Linked DNA regions of Homo sapiens: region 2 is linked to region 1. The links come from fine-mapping of genetic effects on gene expression. A gene starts in region 1. The other region holds a variant in brackets. All regions are shown on one strand. Distances are between the middles of the regions. Region 1 holds the start of RBM28 (RNA binding motif protein 28). Region 2 overlaps RBM28 (RNA binding motif protein 28).

Region 1 (9,271 bases):
TTTTCTGTATGGCAGCTCTAAATGGAGTTGGGGGGAGGCAGGAGGGAGTTGAGGGAATACAGCTCGGTGTTCACCAGCTCCAACACTTCTTTGATTTTCCTCAGCAAGGATAACCTCAGCCCTTTTACTTCATAAAGAGGCCAAGATTTTGTTTAGAGGATCCTTTCCTTTTGTCTCATGCCTCATCCCTTACCCAGAGTGGGTTTCCCAGGAAGAATCCAGGTAGATCCTAATGCCTACACCCTTCAGTTCCAAGTCTTGGTATTGTGGGGACTGAAAGACAAACTCACATTCATTCATTTATTCATTCATTCAATCTCTTAAAGAATATTTACTGAATGCCTATGACGTACTAGGTGCTGGGAATAGACAGGTGAACGAGGTAGACACCAGCCATGAATTTACGAAATTGAAAGCCTGTTGGGGGAAGGCAGATGTTAAACAACTAATGACATAAATAATCACAATAGCACAAGTAATTAATTATAGTTGTGACAAGTGTTAAGGCCAAGAACTATTCTGTATTATAAGAAGGTTTAGCTTGCCAGGGGGAGTGGAGCTAGAGGGATGGGATCTGGAAGAGGCTGGCTGAGAACAGCCCAGGCCTCTCTTACTTCCTTTCCTGGCTCCTGCACAGTGATGGATGAGGAGGAGGCCAGCAGTTTATTTCCCCTGGAAGCCACATTGCTGGTGTGATGCAGGGTAGCACAGCACCTGCTATTTAATAAAGATTGCTGCATGTGTCTTGGGTAGATGGATGAGCAAATATTCCTGAGGAAAGAACCATTGCCTGCCCTGATATAAATGGATTGGAGGGGATTGGGCTGAGAGACAGATCGGGGAACCAGGTCTGAACCGTGGGGAGGGTAGAAAGGGTCAGCTGCACTGTTGTCCTCCCAGAAGGGCACAGAACCCTGCACTGTGGGTGGCTGCTGCCCCCTGATGGGCATAGAGACACAGTTAGATTTGTCCTAAATTAAGGAAGATTTGGATCAGAGCTATTTAAAACTTAGCATTTGTGGAGGGTCTCACAAAGGAATATTGGAACAATCTTCTCAGGATTGTTTTCCTTGTACAGACTGCAGCCAGGACTAGGAAGGCTTCCCCTTAGCTGGGGTTCTGAAGCTCACAATTTAATCTTTGGGGGTGGAATTTTAATTCCTAAGGTGATAGGAGTGGGCAGGAGGGAAGGAGAAGGAAGAGGAGGATGTGGAGTCCCAAACCAACTTTGTTACATGATCCATCCCATTGCCTTTATCTGTTTGTTTCTCTTTATCCTGGATAGGATTAACATAGCAACCTTAAAAATCTGTTTTGTATTTCAAAGCTTCCTTTCCTGAGTAATATTTTTAAATTTATTTTTAAATTTTTATTGTTATTGTTTTGAGATGGGGTCTCACTCTGTCACCCAGAGTGCAGTGCAGTGGCACGATAGCTCACTGCAACCTCCGCCTCCCCAGGTCAAGCGATCCTCCCACCTCAGCCTCAGAGTAGCTGAGACCACAGGTGCATGCCACCACAGCCCAGCTAATATTTTGTACTTTCGGTAGAGATGGAGTTTCATCATGTTTCTGAGGCTGGTCTCAAACTCCCAACCTCAGGTGATCCGCCCGCCTTGGCCTCCCAAAGTGCTGGGATTACAGGCATGAGCCACCACACCGGGCCTACAAGGCATTTTTTTTTTTTTCTGTCTGACTTTCTGGAGGGCCAAAGAATGATAACATCTGCTTATTGTGAGAGGGTTCTGAGAAAGTTAGCCAAACCTTTAGCAGAAAAATACCTAGGGGAAACCTTCAACAGAGAGGGCCCTTCTCCATCACAGTGCTCTTGCTCACTCCTCTCTCAAACAAGGGCAATTTTTCAAGAGTGTTAATGGGAAACCATTAGGCATCCACCTTAAGGTCCTATTTTGGCTCCTTCTGACTTAGTTTTGTTTCCTAATCTTAAAAAATCTTTAAGGGGCTCACATTTTTCTTCAATTATATATATATATATATATATATATATATATATATATATATATATATATAGAGAGAGAGAGAGAGAGAGAGAGAGAGAGAGAGAGAGAGAGAGAGAGAGAGAGACTGCATTGACATGCTTAAATTCCAAAGACCTTAAGTTCTTTAGAGATGGACTAAGTGGCTGGTATCATTGCTTACAAATGTGTTTTGAACTTGATGGAGCTAATGTTGAAAAATAAAGTTTAGGCTGGGTATGGTGGCTCATGCCTGTTATCCCAGCACTTTGGGAGGCCGATGACGGCTGATCACTTGAGGTCAGGAGTTCAAGACCAGCCTGGCCAAGTTGGTGAAACTCTGTCTTTACTGAAAATACAAAAATTAGCCAGGCATGGTGGTGGGTGCCTGTAATCTCATCTACTCAGGAGGCTGAGGCAGGAGAATTGCTTGAACCTAGGAGGTGTAGGTTGCAGTGAACCGAGATCGCACCACTGCATTCCAGCCTGGGTGACAGAGCGAGACTCTGCTCAGAAAAAAAGAAAAATAAACTTGTATTTTATTTTCAGAAGTCTCGAACTCCTGAGTTCCAGTGATCTACCCATCTTGATCTCCCAAAGTGAGTTATATATTTTTTTGAGATGGAGTCTTCCTTTGTTGCCCAGGCTGGAGTGCAGTGGTGCAATCTCGGCTCACTGCAACCTCTGCCTCCTGAGTTCAAGCGATTCTCCTGCCTCAGCCTCCCGAGTAGCTGGGATTACAGGCATGTGCCACCATGCCCGGCTACTTTTTGTATTTTTAGTAGAGACGGGGTTTCACCATGTTGGCCAGGCTGGTCTCGAACCCTTGATCTGGTGATCCACCCACCTCGGCCTCCCAAAGTGCTGGGATCACGGCCGCTCCTGGCCGTGAGTTGTATTTTTAAAAAATAATCGTGAAGTTTTATTTTAAGCATAGATTACTTACTTCGAACTAGAGCTCCATAAATGTGATGTTTAGCGTCCCCCTAATCTCCACTCCCATCACTATCAACCAGTCGTCTAGCCATCCAAAATGTATTGAAAGTGAATGGGGCTTGAGGAGATCATGAAACTTAATTTTCACCATAGTGCCTTATAAAAGGTACTAAAACTGTAAAGTTTTTGAGTTTTCTATCTGCCATGTTACTATCATTTAAAAGTAATGATTTGGCTGGGCTCAGTGGCTCACGCCTATAATCCCAACACTTTGGGAGGCCGTAGTGGGAGGATTGGTTTATCCCAGGAGTTCAAGACTAGCCTGGGCAACACAGGGAGAACTGTCTGTACAAAAAAATAAATAAATTGGCCAGGCATGGTGGTACACACTTGTGGTCCTAGCTTCTCAGGAGGCTGAGGTGGCAGTATTGCTTGAGCCCAGGAGATCAAGGCTGCAGTGAGCCATGATGGTGCCACTGCACCCCAAGTTGGGTGACAGAGCAAGAGTCTGCTAAAAAAAAAATTATTTAAAAAATGGCCTTGGGTACTTTTTTTTGAGCTAGTTGTTCTGCAAGGTGTAGCTCTCTTGCACCTATTCAGGTCCTGAGCCCAGTGGCATGGCAAACACTCTCTGTGTTCCAGAACCAGGAGCACCCAGATTTCCTAGCCAATTAAGAGCTCTCAGCTTTGGGTCTGTCTGATGAGCTGACTTGAGACAAAGATCTTCTGTTTCTAGGAGGACATGGGTTCTAGGTCTCTGTGTATAAGTTGGATGTTATGTTTGCTTTGAGTGTGTTTGATGTGGTCCTGCAGTGTGTGTGCTGTGATTTATTTGTAAGAATTTTTGGACTAATAGTCTTCCCAGCCAGGTGTGGTGGTTCACACCTATAATCCTAGCACTTTAGGAGGCTAAGGGGGGCTAATTGAGCTCAGGAGTTTGAGACCAGCCTGGGCAACATGGTGAAACCCTGTCTCTGCAAAAAATACAAAAATTAGCCGGGTGTGGTGGTGCACCTGTAGTTCCAGCTACTCAGGAGGCTGAGGCAGGAGGACTGCTTGAACCTGGGAGGTCGAGGCTGCAGTAAGCCGAGATCGTGCCAGTGCACTCCGGCCTGGTTGATAAAGTGAGGCCCTGTCAAAAAAAAAAATCTGTTTCCACCATTAGACTGTAATCTCTATGAGGGCAGGGACCCTGTCATTTCTTTGCTCACCAGTTTTATCCCTAATGCTTGGCTCATAGTTAGAGCTCAGTATATATTTATTGAAATAATAATTGTGTACTATCTGTGTCTATGTGTATTTTAGTAGCTACAATTTGTTTGTGAGGCTGAGGTGACAGACAGCTGGTGTTCTCCGAAAATGAGAATCGTCCGAATGATGTATATGATATATCTATGTCTACGTGTTAGTGTTCCGGTTGTGTTTTATGCACGTAATCTGGGAATTTGTGGAGGCACTTCAGAAAATATCAAACACCCACAGTATATCAGATCCTGAGTTACGCCCGGGGCAAAAACGACTTCTTCTGCCTGTCCTGCTAACTTTGGGGAGGATCTGGAGGTGAGATTTTTAAACAGGGTAGAAATTATTTATTTTTATTTTGTATATTAAGAAAAAAAATTACTTTTTGGAGGCCTTCCGGCAAAAACCAGAAAGCCTGCTAGGCAAATTCTAAAAAAGCTGTAACACTAGGGTAGAAATTATTGATGCCAAGTTTACACAAAAGTGGCGAGGGCGATGCTAGGGCAGGGGGCGGAGCCCCGCTCCAGAAGCTACGCCCCGGGGCGCCATTATTTTTTCATTCCGGAACCTTTTATCCCCCTCCCGACCATGTTTTCCTCCGGTCTCTTTTGGGCAACGAGCACTTCCGGAATCTCTCGGCGTGTGAGCTTGGTTGTCCTACCAAAGCCAGCGTTTCGGCTCGCGTGCGCCGGCCTAGTTTGCTCGCGTCCTCACGCGCTTTGGGTTTCCCGGTCTCATGGCCGGCCTGACCTTATTTGTGGGCCGCCTCCCGCCCTCGGCCCGCAGTGAGCAGCTGGAGGAACTGTTCAGTCAGGTGGGGCCGGTGAAGCAGTGCTTCGTGGTGACTGAAAAAGGTAGGGGCGGGGCGGTCGAGGATAGGGCTGGGGTTTCCTGCGATCGAGGGCACCTTCCCAAACTTCAGGGAGCCGTATCATTCTTTACCCTCCCCGAAGAGAAGGGACAGGGAACTGAGTTTCTTTTCCAAACTGATTCTGCTTTAGATGCGTTCATAGGAGTCAGTTTATGAAGGGCAAAGCATTCCCTTACGTTTCTATAGCGCTTTCTGTTGATTATGCGCGCTAAAAATGAAAATAGTTAACTAGAGCATCAGTAAGACTTATTGAGAGTCACCTGATTGGCAGGTACAGTGATCAGTTTGATACAGGTTATCTCATTTAATTTTCTCAGCAATCTTACCGGATGGAGAGTCTTAATGTCATTTTACAGACAGGAATCCGGGATTTAGGGGAATTTAGTAACTTTAAGTTTGTACGGCTGTTAAGTAGTGGACCCCCGATTTGATCCTCAGACCTGGACATCTTAGCCAGGATGCTATCCACTTGTTCATTCATTTATTCAGCAAATACTTAATACCTACTGTGTGCCAGGAAGTGTTGTAGGTCCTGGGGATGCAGCAGTGCACAACACCAAACCAAAAAAATCTTTGATTTTATGTCTTCAAGGTGGGGAAGAGAGCCAATAAACGAGCCAATAAACAAGCCAACCGTGAAAATGATGTCAAATGCTAAGGAGAAAAATAAGCCAGGGAAAGGGGTTAGGAAGTCTATGTGCATGTGTATAGTGGGGAGAGGGGGTGAAGAGTGGCAATATAGATAGGGTGGCCAGAGAAGGACGGACTGAGGTGAGAGAGTGAACACATGCCTCTCCGGAGGAAGAACAATTCAGGAAGAGAAAACAGCAAGCTCAAAGGTACTGAAACAGAGGTGTTTTTGGTATATTGGAGGAGTAGTAAGGAGGACAGGGTGACTGGATTGAAGTGAGTAAAGGGAAGAGAATTAGGAGATGAGATCTAGAGTAGCAGATCATGTAAGATTTTTTTTTTTTTTTAAAGACTGCGTCTTGCTCTGTCGCCCAGGCGGGAGTGCAGTGCCACGATCTCCGCTCACTGCAACCTCTGCCTCCTGGTTCAACCCATTCTCCTGCCTCAGCCTCCCAAGTAGCTGGGATTACAGGCGAGTGTCACTACACCTGGCTAATTTTTGTATTTTTAGTAGAGACGGGGTTTCGCTATGTTGGCCAGGGTTGTCTGGAACTCGAGACCTCAGGTGATCCGCCCGCCTCATGTAGGATGTTATAGACCATTGCAAGGACTTTGGCTTTTACTCAGAGATAGGAAGCCACTGATTTTAAGCAGAGAGCAGTAAGTGTGATCTGGCATTCGTTTTGAAAGATTCTCTCTCTGGCTGGTGTGTTGCCAATAGACTGTTGGAGAATAGGACAAAAGCTTATGTACTTAAAATAGGGACCGAAAGTCCTGTACAGTAATGTTTATTAAACTGCAGATTATTACCTATTAGTGGGTCTTGAGTGGGTCATGACTAGAGTTTGTTTTGTTGTGTTTTAGAAACAGGGTCTTGCTCTGTCAACCCTGTTGACAGTTGGAGTGCAGTGGTGCGATCACAGCTCAATGTAACCTTAAACTCCTGGGCTCAAGCAATCCTCCTACTTCAGCCTCCCAAGTAGCTATGACTACAGACGTGCTTCACCATGCCTGGCCAATTTTTGAATATTTTTTGTAGAGACAGGGTCTCACTACGTTGTCCAGGCTGGTTTCAAATGATCCTCCTGCCTTGGCCTCCCAAAGCACTGGGATTACAGGCATGTGCCACCACGCCTGGCCTAGAGTTCTTAAAAAATTAAATAGTATAGGAGTACGTCCATATATGGTAAAGGATAAGTATTTGTAAAACTTTTAAGTTTTAAATAAAGAATATATGTATGTACTGGGTTCCAGTGTAAGTAGCATTCCGTACCCAGGTGGTTGTATTCCAGGGAAGAATAGGCCATTGAATGGGAGTTCTCCTTTGAGTCCTCAGAATATAGGCTACATGCAATCTTACCTTACACCTTGTGTACTTGGTCTAAATCCTTAAAAATCTCTTACTTCCTTTTAAAAAACTATGCACTTTCCTATCCAGACAGCTGATATGTACTGGAAAGAGTGCTGCACTCAGTGAAACGGGAGGGAGGGTATGTGGAATGAAGTCTTCCTCAATAGCAGTGCATGTCACTTCACCTCTTTAAGATGGGAATAATTTCACAGGGTTGTCAGGGACTCTAAATGTATGTGAGCATGCTTTATGCAGACATGTAAAATGTGTGGTATTTACTGTATGTCCTTTCATTTGGGTGTCAAACTCTTTTACATTTCAGCTGCTTTACTTTTGGTTGTACTGATCATGAAGGGCTATGAATTTTCTTGTGCTCATTTTCTGAAAGGTGAGTGGGCAGCTTTTATGATAAGGAGTTCAAGAGAAGAGAAAAATTGATGTTATGTTGCTTTAACCAGTTTATGTAGATCAGTGTCCTGTGTCAAAGGGCTTATACCCTGAAGGAGATTCAAATGCAGTGGAAAGAGAAGCAGAGCATATGAACTATGTGTCCTTTTCAGGTAAAGGCAGACTTCTTGATCTGTCCTTTTCCTTTTTGATGCAATAAATTATTTAAAATTTTACTATACAAAATGTTAAACCAAAAAGGGCAAAGGTGGGTTACAGTTGATATTTGTAGTTTTCATCTCCTTGGTCCTAATATTATTCTTTGTGGAGTCCTATGGAAGAACATGGGGGCTGGTGAGGAGGAGTTAATTCAGCTACTAACACCCTGTGTGACATTAACCAATTCACTTACTGTCTTCCATCTCAAATTACTTACTTGGAAAGAAGGGGTGATAATATTTGCTTTACCTATTTTGAGGTGTTCTAAAGATAAAATGAGACAAGAATGCACAGCTGCTTTGGAAAGGTTTAATTTGATATCGACAGCTAAGGCGTTGGTAATAGTGGTCATAACATCTGCAGTCTCTCTGAGCAGTATTTATTGTTTGAGGTTCTTTTGTCTGGGCCTCAGGCATTTATTGCTGATCTATTTTGAGGAGTAACTGCATTATTGTGTTCTGATTTTTGAAGCTACCATACTGTCTTAATTCATTTTCTGTTGCTTATAAGAGAATACCTGAAACTAGGTACTTTGTAAAGAAAAATTTATTTCTTAAGTTCTGGAGGCTGAGAAGTCCAAAGTTTAGTGGCTGTATCTGGTGAGAGCCTTCTTGTTGGTGGGGACTCTGCAAAATGCCCAGACAGTGCAGGGTGTCATGGCGAGGGGGCTGAGCATGCTAATGTGCTTGCTCAGGTCTCTCTTCCTCTTCTTATAAAGCCCCCAGCTCCACTCTCATGATAGCCCATTAATCTATTAACCCATTAATCCATAAATTGATTAATCCATTCCTGAAGACAGAGTCCTCTGATCCAGTCACCTCTTAAAGACTCCACCTTTCAATACTGCTACATTGGGGATTAAGTTTCCAACACATGAAATTTGGGGGACACATTCAAACCATAGCATATACTTACCTTTCCTGCCTTCTTTGGTGATGTTTTGTTCTTTTTGATGTTGAGTTCTTTGAGGGCCTCATATGTCATGGATTCTCTGTTTTCTTGGGATTATCAAGAAAGGGGGAAGAAGGGGAGCTAACAGCAAAGACACTAAATTAAAAGAGGAGGAAGGCTAACAGTTTCTAAGCAAAGTGGGGAGGGAACCACTGATACCACCCTTGTTTCTCGCCCTCCTGAGACTTTTGGCAAACTGATAGCAAGATGGGTTGGCAGTATATCCTCTAGCTTAGGCTTTGAGGATTTACTCATTTAGTGCTCTTGGCTTATGATTCTCTCTCCTTTTCACACTGCCCCTCCACTCCCTCCCCACTCCATTATTCCAGGGAGTAAGGCATGTCGAGGCTTTGGCTATGTCACTTTTTCAATGCTGGAAGATGTTCAGAGGGCCCTCAAGGAGATTACCACCTTTGAAGGTTGCAAGATCAACGTGACTGTTGCCAAGAAAAAACTGAGGAACAAGACAAAGGAAAAGGGGAAAAATGGTGAGTTTCTAGTAATTGAAGGAAGTTTTTCTCCCAGGGTGAGGAGGAGCACTATGAAAATGAAAGAGGGAGGCATGGAGGTAGCTTCTAGAACTTAAAGCTTTTTGCATTTCTTTTTGATCTCCAAAATCATCCAGTGTATTGTGATACTCATTTTAGTTCTTTGGAAAAATCTGGTATTCCTTGGTATTATTGCCACACTTAACCCTGTGGTAAATGCC
Region 2 (9,271 bases), 31 kb after region 1:
TAAAGCAGTTCATGTCAGGCAAGTCTTCTCATTCTGTAATTACTGATTTTTTTCTTGCTCTACTCATAGTGTAGAGTGATGCGAGACCTCAAAGGAGTTCATGGGAACATGAAGGGTCAGTCCCTGGGCTACGCCTTTGCGGAGTTCCAAGAGCACGAGCATGCCCTGAAAGCCCTCCGCCTCATCAACAACAATCCAGAAATCTTTGGGCCTCTGAAGGTAGGCCTTGTCCTCTGGGGAGACTTGTTCCCTTAGGACCACTTGCAGGAAACCAGCCTTCTCCTTTATGCCTAGTGTCCTCTGACATTTGAGGGGTGGGAAACAGTGGCAAGTGGACAAAAAAAAGGTGGGTTGGGGGAGGATGTGTGAAGGGGAAAAACTCAGCTCATTGCATGCACAGATTAAGAAGTCTAATGAATGGCATTCTGTCTCCCTCTGACAGAGACCAATAGTGGAGTTCTCTTTAGAAGATCGAAGAAAACTTAAAATGAAGGAATTAAGGATCCAGCGCAGCTTGGTACAGAAATTAAATGGTCCATATTTTTAAGGACATAAACTCTTCTATTTTGTTCAATTTGTGCTTCTGCTCTCTTAGAGTAGTTCTCCCCTCAGTTAGGTTTTTTTGCTCCTAGTTCCCTTTACTCCCAGTTCCCTAAGCCTCTCCAGGCCATCTTCTTATCTGCTGGCCCATGTCTGATAGCTCTACAGCAGAAGGGAAAGGAAGGAGAGAGGAAGCAGACCAATGTTATTTCCAGTCAGCCGTTTTTTACAGTGTTTGGTGATAGTACGTGCCAAAATTAATGGTTGAGGTTAAGGTTTCCCATTACCTGTAGATTTCAGTTATCTCTTCCATATTTTCTTTTATTAGTTGGCTCCAGAAGTGTGAAGCCTGATAGTTTTAGTACTGTTTTTAATCTGGTGTGGTATAGAAGGTGGAGCAGGGACTTTAGGAATACGTGTACTCATGCTCATACTCTGGCTCTGCCCTTTTTGCTGCATGTTCCTTGGCAGTTATTACCGCTCTGAACTTCAGTTTGTAAAATGGGGTGGACAACATCTGCCTCACATGATTGCTGAGGACTAAATGAGATAATACATGTCCATCGTCTAGCATACTGCATGGTCAGCACGCAGTCAGTACTCATTCTCTTACCCATCTTCCCCCAGGACATACAGGGCCAGATTATTCTTGACTCTGTCATTCTTAGAGCTCTCATTGATATTGCACAGCAAAGTTCCCTTGCATATACAGCAAACATTTGTAGTCTTTGTGGTATATACCAAGAGGATTACCAACAGACGAGCCATTCTGGTGGTTAATGCAGTGGCCCTAGGTTGGAAAATCTGGGATCTGGTTATTGTTCAAGGCAACTTTGTTCCCCAGATAATAGAATTGTTTATTACTGTTAGCCATTGTTTCAGAGGTGATTCTGAAGCTACCAGTTTTGTTTGTTTTTCTGTTTGAGATGGAGTCTTGCTGTGTCGCTCAGTTTGGAGTGCAGTGGCACAATCTCAGTTCACTGCAACCTCCACCTTCTGGGTTCAAGTGATTCTCTTGCCTCAGCCTCCTGAGTAGCTGGGACTACAGGTGCACACCACCATACCCGGCTAATTTTTGTATTTTTTTAGTAGAGACAGGGTTTCACCATGTTGGCCAGGCTGGTCTCGAACTCCTGACTTCAAGTGATCCACCTGCCTCAGCCTCCCAAAGTGCTGGGATTACAGGCGTGAGTCACTGAGCCCAGCCTAGTTTGTTTTTTAACATCCAAATTACTTTATTTGTTGCCTGGATTTATATTCATACTGTTCTTTCTGTGTAAAAATGCCTCTACTCACTTTGCATATGCAGATCAAATGATCTCTTTCAAGTTGCATGCCTCCACCTCTCTCAAAAGATATAAGGCCCTCTTTACTTGATTTTCATGAACTTCCTTAAGCTGTGTAGTTTTTTTTACTTTGGTTTATTTGTGAATGCATCTCTTATCTCCACCTGGCTGTGAGTCCTGAAGGGTAGACACTATTTTTTTGTATCCTGGAAACAGACTGGCACACACTAGGCATATAATAAATGTTCATTGTATCGTTGTACCTATCTAGATTTCTAAGGTGAAAGGGAAGAACAACACACACTTATCATTACATTAATTTCACTTGAATCTTCTGTTTCTTCCACTTCAGTGCAAATACTTCTATAACTTCCTTGATGCCTTCCTTCCCACAGCATCTTTTTCTTGTCGTCTTTACTTCATTTATTCCATTCCTGATGTTCTTCCTTTCTTGAAAACGATCAGTTTCTGACCTATGTCATTTTTCTTCTCTCTGAAGAGATTATTTCGCATTTCTTGCAGACAGGTCTACTGGCAACAAATTCTCTCCATTTTCTTTTGTCTGAGTAAGTCTTTTCCTTCACTTTTGAAGGATAAGTTTATCGGATACAGGATTGTAGGTTGGTGATTTTTTTTTCTTTTAAAAATTTAAATATTAAATATCTCACTTCACTCCCTTCTTGCTTACATGGTTTCTGAAGAGAAGTCTTGGAAATCTCTCTCAATCTACTCTGGTTTGGGAGGGTGCCTATTAAAAACAAAAGAGAGAGAGATTTGATGTAATCTCATCCTTGTTCCTCTATAGGTAAAATTTTTCCCCTGTCTGGCTTCTTTCAAGATTTTATCTTTGATTTTCTGCAGTTTGTCTATGATATGACTGGTTGTAAATTGTTTAGTATTTATCTTATTTGGTCTTCTCTGAGTTCCTAGATCTGTGGTTTAGTGACTGTCATTAGTTTTGAAAAATTCTCAGCCCTTATTACTTCATTATCTTTTCTGTTGCTTGCTTTCTTCTTGTATTCTCCTTCTACATAGGTTACACCTTTGATAATTGTCCCACCTACTGACTTTTGAATTTTGGGCATGCACTCTCCCTTATTTCTGTGTTATGGGAAGGGGAATGGTTATTTTGTGCCCCCCACCCAGTAACCATCTGTTACTGTGGCAGGGCTTGTGATCTACATGTATTCACTTTCCTCTAGTCTCCAATTGTGTGGGGGAAGAATTCCTCTTCTTTCATCTAGCTCACATAAAGCTCATCTTCTGCTGAGTATTTGCAGCAAACAAAGCTCATCCAGAAACCAGATGGCATTTTCTTGTTTTATGCAGCAAAAAATGAGATCCAAGCCTGCAACTGGTGAGCCTCAGAAGGGGCAACCAGAGCCTGCAAAAGACCAGCAACAGAAGGCAGCTCAACACCACACAGAGGAACAAAGCAAGGTGCCCCCAGAGCAGAAGAGAAAGGCGGGCTCTACCTCATGGACCGGGTTCCAGACCAAGGCTGAAGTGGAGCAGGTGGAGCTGCCTGATGGAAAGAAGAGAAGAAAGGTCCTGGCGCTCCCCTCACACCGAGGCCCCAAAATCAGGTGAGATGCAGGAGGGCAGAAGCACAGAACAGTGGGTGGGTTCTAAGCGGGTTTGTTTTTGCTGAGTTATTTTCTCTTTGTGGCATTTGTTTGGTTGAAAAGGATGTTTGGTGCTATGTATTCCCACACATGGGGTTAACACGCGAGTCTTCAACACCATCAGAGATGTCACTCTTAGATCAATGGCAGAGGGGCCTCCTAGGGCAGGCTTTTGTGCCCCTTTTCTCCTCTTTTGAAGAGCTTCCTCTTGTCCAGATGGCCATCTCTGCCAGCTGAGACCACATACTTGAGGTTCAGTTGTAGTTTCTGTTTGGGACAGCAGATTAGTGCTCTACAAAAGTAAATCTTTACAAAATATTTGTTAAATAAATGAAGGTTTTTGAGATATCCATGGGGTTTTATTTATTTATTTATTTTATTTTTAGAGACAGTGTATTATTCAGTTCTTCCACTGCTATAAAGAAATACCTGAGACTGGGTAATTTATAAAGAAAAGAGGCTTGGCTGGGCGCGGTGGCTCACGCCTGTAATCCCAGCACTTTGGGAGGCCGAGGCGGGTGGATCACGAGGTCAGGAGATCGAGACCATCCTGGTTAACATGCTGAAACCCCGTCTCTACTAAAAATACAAAAAATTAGCTGGGTGCGGTGG[C/T]GGGCGCCTGTAGTCCCAGCTACTGGGGAGGCTGAGGCAGGAGAATGGCGTGAACCCGGGAGGCGGAGCTTGCAGTGAGCCGAGATCACGCCACTGCACTCTGGCCTGGGCGAAAGAGCGAGACTCCGTCTCAAAAAAAAAAAAGAAAAGAAAAGAGGCTTAATTGGCTCATGGTTCCACAGGCTGTACAGGAAGCATGACAGCAGCTGCTCATCTTCTAGGGAGGCCTCAGGAAACTTAATCATAGTGGAAGGTGAAGTGGGAGCTGGCACATCACATGGCCAGGAGCAGGGGGGAGTGTTTTAAACAACCAGATCTTGTGGTAACTCATTCACCGTCACGAGAACAGCACTGAGGGGATGGCGCTAAACCATTCATGAAGGAGTCATCCCCATGATCCAGTCACCTCCCACCAGGCCCAGCCTTCAACACTGGGGATTACAATTCAACGTGAGATTTGAGCAAGGACACAGATCCAAACCATGTCACAGGGTCTTGCTCTGTTGCCCAGGCTAGAGTGCAGTGGCATGATCATAGCGCACTGTAACCTCAACTCCTGGACTCAATCCACCTTCCTCAGCCTCCTGAGTAGCTGGGACTTTTTAATTTCGTTGTAGTAGAGACGGGGGATTGCTATGTTGCATAGGCTGGTCTCAAACTCCTGGCATCAAGCAGTCCTAAGTATACAAATGTTGAGCTTTCAGAGGGTCTGTTGCAGTATCCCTTTTTAGAATGACTTCACTTATCATGGGCTTGGGAAGGGCCAGTGTACAAAGAGAACCTAGGGGTGTCAAATTAGAAGAAGGACTCAAGGTGACACTCAGCCATGTTATTTCAGGTTGCGGGACAAAGGCAAAGTGAAGCCCGTCCATCCCAAAAAGCCAAAGCCACAGATAAACCAGTGGAAGCAGGAGAAGCAGCAATTATCGTCCGAGCAGGTGAGTTCTGCAGGACATACAGCTTTGGTATGGCATGGTTCTGCCAGGTCGTAGCCATGTTTGTACCTTGGTTAGTTGAGCAAAAAAGAAAAAAAGAAAGACTTCTGTGTAGGACGGTAGCTTTTTAGAGAATGTTGAGCTATACAATCTTAAAAGTGGAGAGAAAAAAGTAAAATGAACCTCCACGTATCTGTTCCTGTGTTTCAGCAGTCTCCTTGTTTTACATATTCCCCATAACATGCTTTCCCCACTAGAGTATATTAAAGCAAAGCCCATTTCACATGTAAATGCGTCTCATATGAAAATGAAACATATTGCTCAGAAAAACCTCAGAGTGCATCTCTAACTGATCAGGCCTTAAACACACACACCTTATGCCATTATAATATCTAATGAAACTAATAAGCCCTTTATCATCTACTACACAAATGATATATTAAATCCATATTAAAATTTGCCAAATTGCCTGAAAAAAATTTTTTTATACTTGGTTAGTATGAGTCGGGATCCAAAGTCCCACATTATACTTGGGTTTTTAATTTCTTAAATCATTTTTTTCTTCTCTAATATCCATTCTCCCTTACCACCCTTTTTTCCATGCTATTCATTTATTGGAGAAACCAGGTCATTTGTGTTACATTTTTAATTTAGCCATTTGCTTCTTTGTGGTGTCATTTAACTTGTCTCTGTGACACCCCCATATTGCCTGTCATCTGGTAGTTAGTTCGGTCTGGTAGCTTGATCAAGTTCAGTTTTCTTTTTTTAAAAATTTTTTTGAGGTGGAGTTTTGCTCTTGTTGCCTAGGCTGGAGTGCAATGGCGCAATCTCGGCTCACTGCAACCTCCGCCTCCAGGAGTAGCCTCCCGAGTAGCTGGAATTACAGGCATGCGCCACCATGCCCAGCTAATTTTGTATTTTAGTAGAGACGGGGTTTCACCATGTTGACCAGGCTGGCCTTGAACTCTTGACCTCAGGTGATTCGCCTGCCTCGGCCTCCCAAAGTGCTGGGATTACAGGTGTGAGCCACCGTGCTTGGCCTCAAGTTCAGTTTTCTTGAAGAGAGTATTTCATAGGTGGTGTGTGTGTTTCCTTATATCGCCTGAGGCACATACTACCTGGTTGCCCATTTTTAGTGATTCTGGGATTGATCAGTAGATTTGAGGATTATCTGCCTTATCCCTCCATTGATGAAGTTCCCAATTAGCCTTTCATGTAATGGCCTTAGCAGTTATTGATGAGTGTTACCAGATCCATTATTTCATTATGGGTTACAGAATGCTGATTATTTAAACTTCTATCCTTTTGCATTTTTAATTAGAACCCTAGAAAGAAAAATCTTCCTTTGTCAATTATTTGCTTACCACAAAATATCATTTATGTAGGAAAGACAGGATAAATGCTTGATTTTTTTTTTCTCTCTCTCTGTTAGTTTTCAGAGTAATGAGCTGTTGCCATACTGGCTCATTTTTTAGTATTATGAAATCCTGAGTTTTCATATGCTTGATGTGTTTCAAATACTGTCATTATTCTTACTCTGTGTAAGGCTGGCAGAAGCCCCTGCAGGTTGGCTTCTGAGTCTTTCTGATGTGGCGTATTTGTCTGGTAGTATCCTTGCTTTCTAGTGCAGGATGTCCCAGGCTCAGCTCAGGTACCTCTTCCCCAGTCCTGACATTAGCCATTTTCCCAAGGAGCCTTAGTTCCTTTTAGTAGAAAACGGTGGTCCTACATTCTTGAACACTTGAAGTCAAGCTTGCTTCTCCCCTTCCCTAGTCTCTTTCCTTTAAGGGTAAAAGCAGCATTAGCTTCCCATCCTACTCAAGAAATCTGTGTCTGGGAAGTTTCTGACGTATACCGTACTATAGTATAGAGATCTCTGAAATCCCATGAGCAGTGTTCTTGGGGAGGGAACAGGCAAGCAAGAATGGCCGGACTCTGTGCTGACTCATCTGCTTTGAGGCTAAAGTGAGCCTTTGGGAGCTAGAGTAAGAGAGGCCCCTGAGTCCCCAGCAGACAGGGAGGTTAGTCAGGCCCTGCTCCCTGTGCACTCACTCTTGGTCTAATTTCTTACCAGTGGATGATTCTGTTTGAGCCTTTCTCTCTAAGAGTCTCTCTCTAGAAACCTACCCCTTTCTGGTAGATATGATCTCTGTCCCACTTACTTTCTCTCTTGGGTGGCCTGAGGGTAAGGTGATATATAGTCTTTGAAATTGATTATATTATGTTTCTAATCCTTTCATTTGTAGGTATCTAGGAAAAAAGCTAAGGGAAATAAGACGGAAACCCGCTTCAACCAGCTGGTCGAACAATATAAGCAGAAATTATTGGGACCTTCTAAAGGAGCACCTCTTGCAAAGAGGAGCAAATGGTTTGATAGTTGATGATGGCAGCAGGCTGGGTAAGAAGCTGGGTTGTGTACTTTCTGGTGACACTCCTGGGCTCCTCCCCATCCCCCGTGTCTCTCACTGAGGGAAAGAAAATCCCCAAGGGCACTGCCACTGTGCTCGGAGGTGCCCTGGACTGTGTACATCTGAACTTTGGTCCATCCTTTGATGTGTGGTTCGTTAGCCACAAAGAGAAATATCTGAAAGTCAACATGATGCTTCTTGCATATTATCCAGATTATTGTATGAAGTTGTGTCTATAATTATTACCAATTTTTATTCTTTATTTCTCAAATGGAAACACCTGAAAAAGCATTCTGGAGTGCTGAATTTTTAAGATGTATATTTTGTTAAGCATATTCTCTAAATGAGATATTGTGTGGCTTTTTAGTAACAACGTCATTTCTAATATGTGTGACTCCTTTATTATGTATGAACATTCTTTGACATTCCTAATTCAGCTCTGTAGTCTTACACACTGCAGGAACTGTCTAAGCGAGAGCAGAGAGAAATGCTTTCTAACCTAATCGCTGCAGGCGGAGACACTTGGAAAAGAATGGGGGGAGGTGGGGCCTGACAGAGAGCAGCACTTATGTGTTTGTCAGATGAGGGGATTTCCAGTTGAATTGGCCTGCAGTGGCCTAAAGACACTAGCCTGGTTAGCGATGACCTGCATTTCTCTCATAGAGCACCTCCCTTTTCATCGTATCCACTAGCTCTCTAAGTCCTCCTTAATGAGGACACTTGATCCTCATTAAGTCTGCCCCTTAAGATGGCTTCACACCTACTGAAAAACTCCAGGGGTTTGACATCTCACTTTGATTGAAATCTTGTCTTCCTATAACATTTGATTCCCTGGGCTCTTCAGCCCTATCACCTCTGCTTGTCTTTATCCACTCTCTTCTTCATTCACTTTTGGCTACACAGGCCTTCCTTCCATCTCTTGACTCTTGACCACCTCAGAGCCTTTGTATCCGTTCCCTTTGCCTGGAGAGTTTTTCCCTTGCATCTTTTACTTGTCACTCAGATCTCCACTAGTTGTCGCCTCCTCCTGGAGCTCTTCCCAGACTATCTAAAGTAGGGCTTTTCTTCCCCTCCCCTCTATCTTGCCCCCTTACTGAAATCTGCTTCCCTGTTTCTTCTTCTTTTTTTTTTTTTTTTGAGATGGAGTCTCACTCTGTCGCCCAGGCTGGAGTGCAATGGCGCTGTCTCAGCTCATTGCAACCTCCACCTCCCGGGTTCAAGCGACTTTCCCGCCTCACCCTCCCAAGTAGCTGGGACTACAGGTGCACGCCACCATTCTTGGCTAAATTTTGTATTTTTAGTAGAGATGGGGTTTCACCATGTTGACTAGGCTGGTCTTGAACTCCTGACCTCAGGTGATCCGCCCACCTCGACCTCCCAAAGTCCTGGTATTACAGGCGTGAGCCACCACGCCTGGCCTGCTTCCCTGTTTCTTTCTAGCACTAATCTCTATCTGAAATCATTTGTCTCTTTCTAGCACTAATCTCTATCTGAAATTGTTTGTCTCTCCAGTTAGAATGTATGCTTTGTGAGAGGGACTTTATCCCTCTTGTTCACTCCTGTAGACACAGCACCTAGTACTGACCCAGGCACGTAGTAAGTATTGAATAAATATTTGTTGAATGAAAAAAATAAGGTAGGAAAGGAAGAAACAGTATTCAGTAGGCAAGAGAAAAAGTTGAGAACGTGGCCCAAAATTCTTGATTGCTTAGTCTAGTTGAGTGTTACAAATAATGCTTTGACAGAACCATTGCTGAGCTAGAGATATGGTTATTTCTTTTTTTTTTTTTTTTTTGAGACAGTCTTGCTCTGTTGCCCAGGCTGGAGTGCAATGGCATGATCTTGGCTCACTGCAACCTCCGCCT

The links. PIP is the estimated chance that this variant, and not a neighbour inherited with it, causes the effect. A credible set is the group of variants that fine-mapping cannot tell apart.
Region 2: its variant is the best candidate, but not a certain one, in a credible set for the expression of RBM28 in whole blood (INTERVAL, PIP 0.64).

The regions. Positions count from the first base shown.
Region 1 is chr7:128,339,412-128,348,682 of GRCh38, reverse strand. It overlaps RBM28 (RNA binding motif protein 28), which reads left to right and starts at 4,775. Exons shown (of 19, transcript NM_018077.3): 1 at 4,775-5,007; 2 at 8,892-9,050. The coding sequence starts at 4,890. It also overlaps the pseudogene RNU7-27P. RefSeq lists enhancers at 859-938, 4,635-4,834.
Region 2 is chr7:128,308,905-128,318,175 of GRCh38, reverse strand. It overlaps RBM28 (RNA binding motif protein 28), which reads left to right. Exons shown (of 19, transcript NM_018077.3): 15 at 70-219; 16 at 443-517; 17 at 3,156-3,412; 18 at 4,902-5,001; 19 at 7,245-9,271. The coding sequence ends at 7,379. Among named protein-coding and RNA genes, the nearest start is that of RBM28, 30 kb to the left of the region's middle. The variant C/T (reference allele first, on the strand shown) is at 4,064.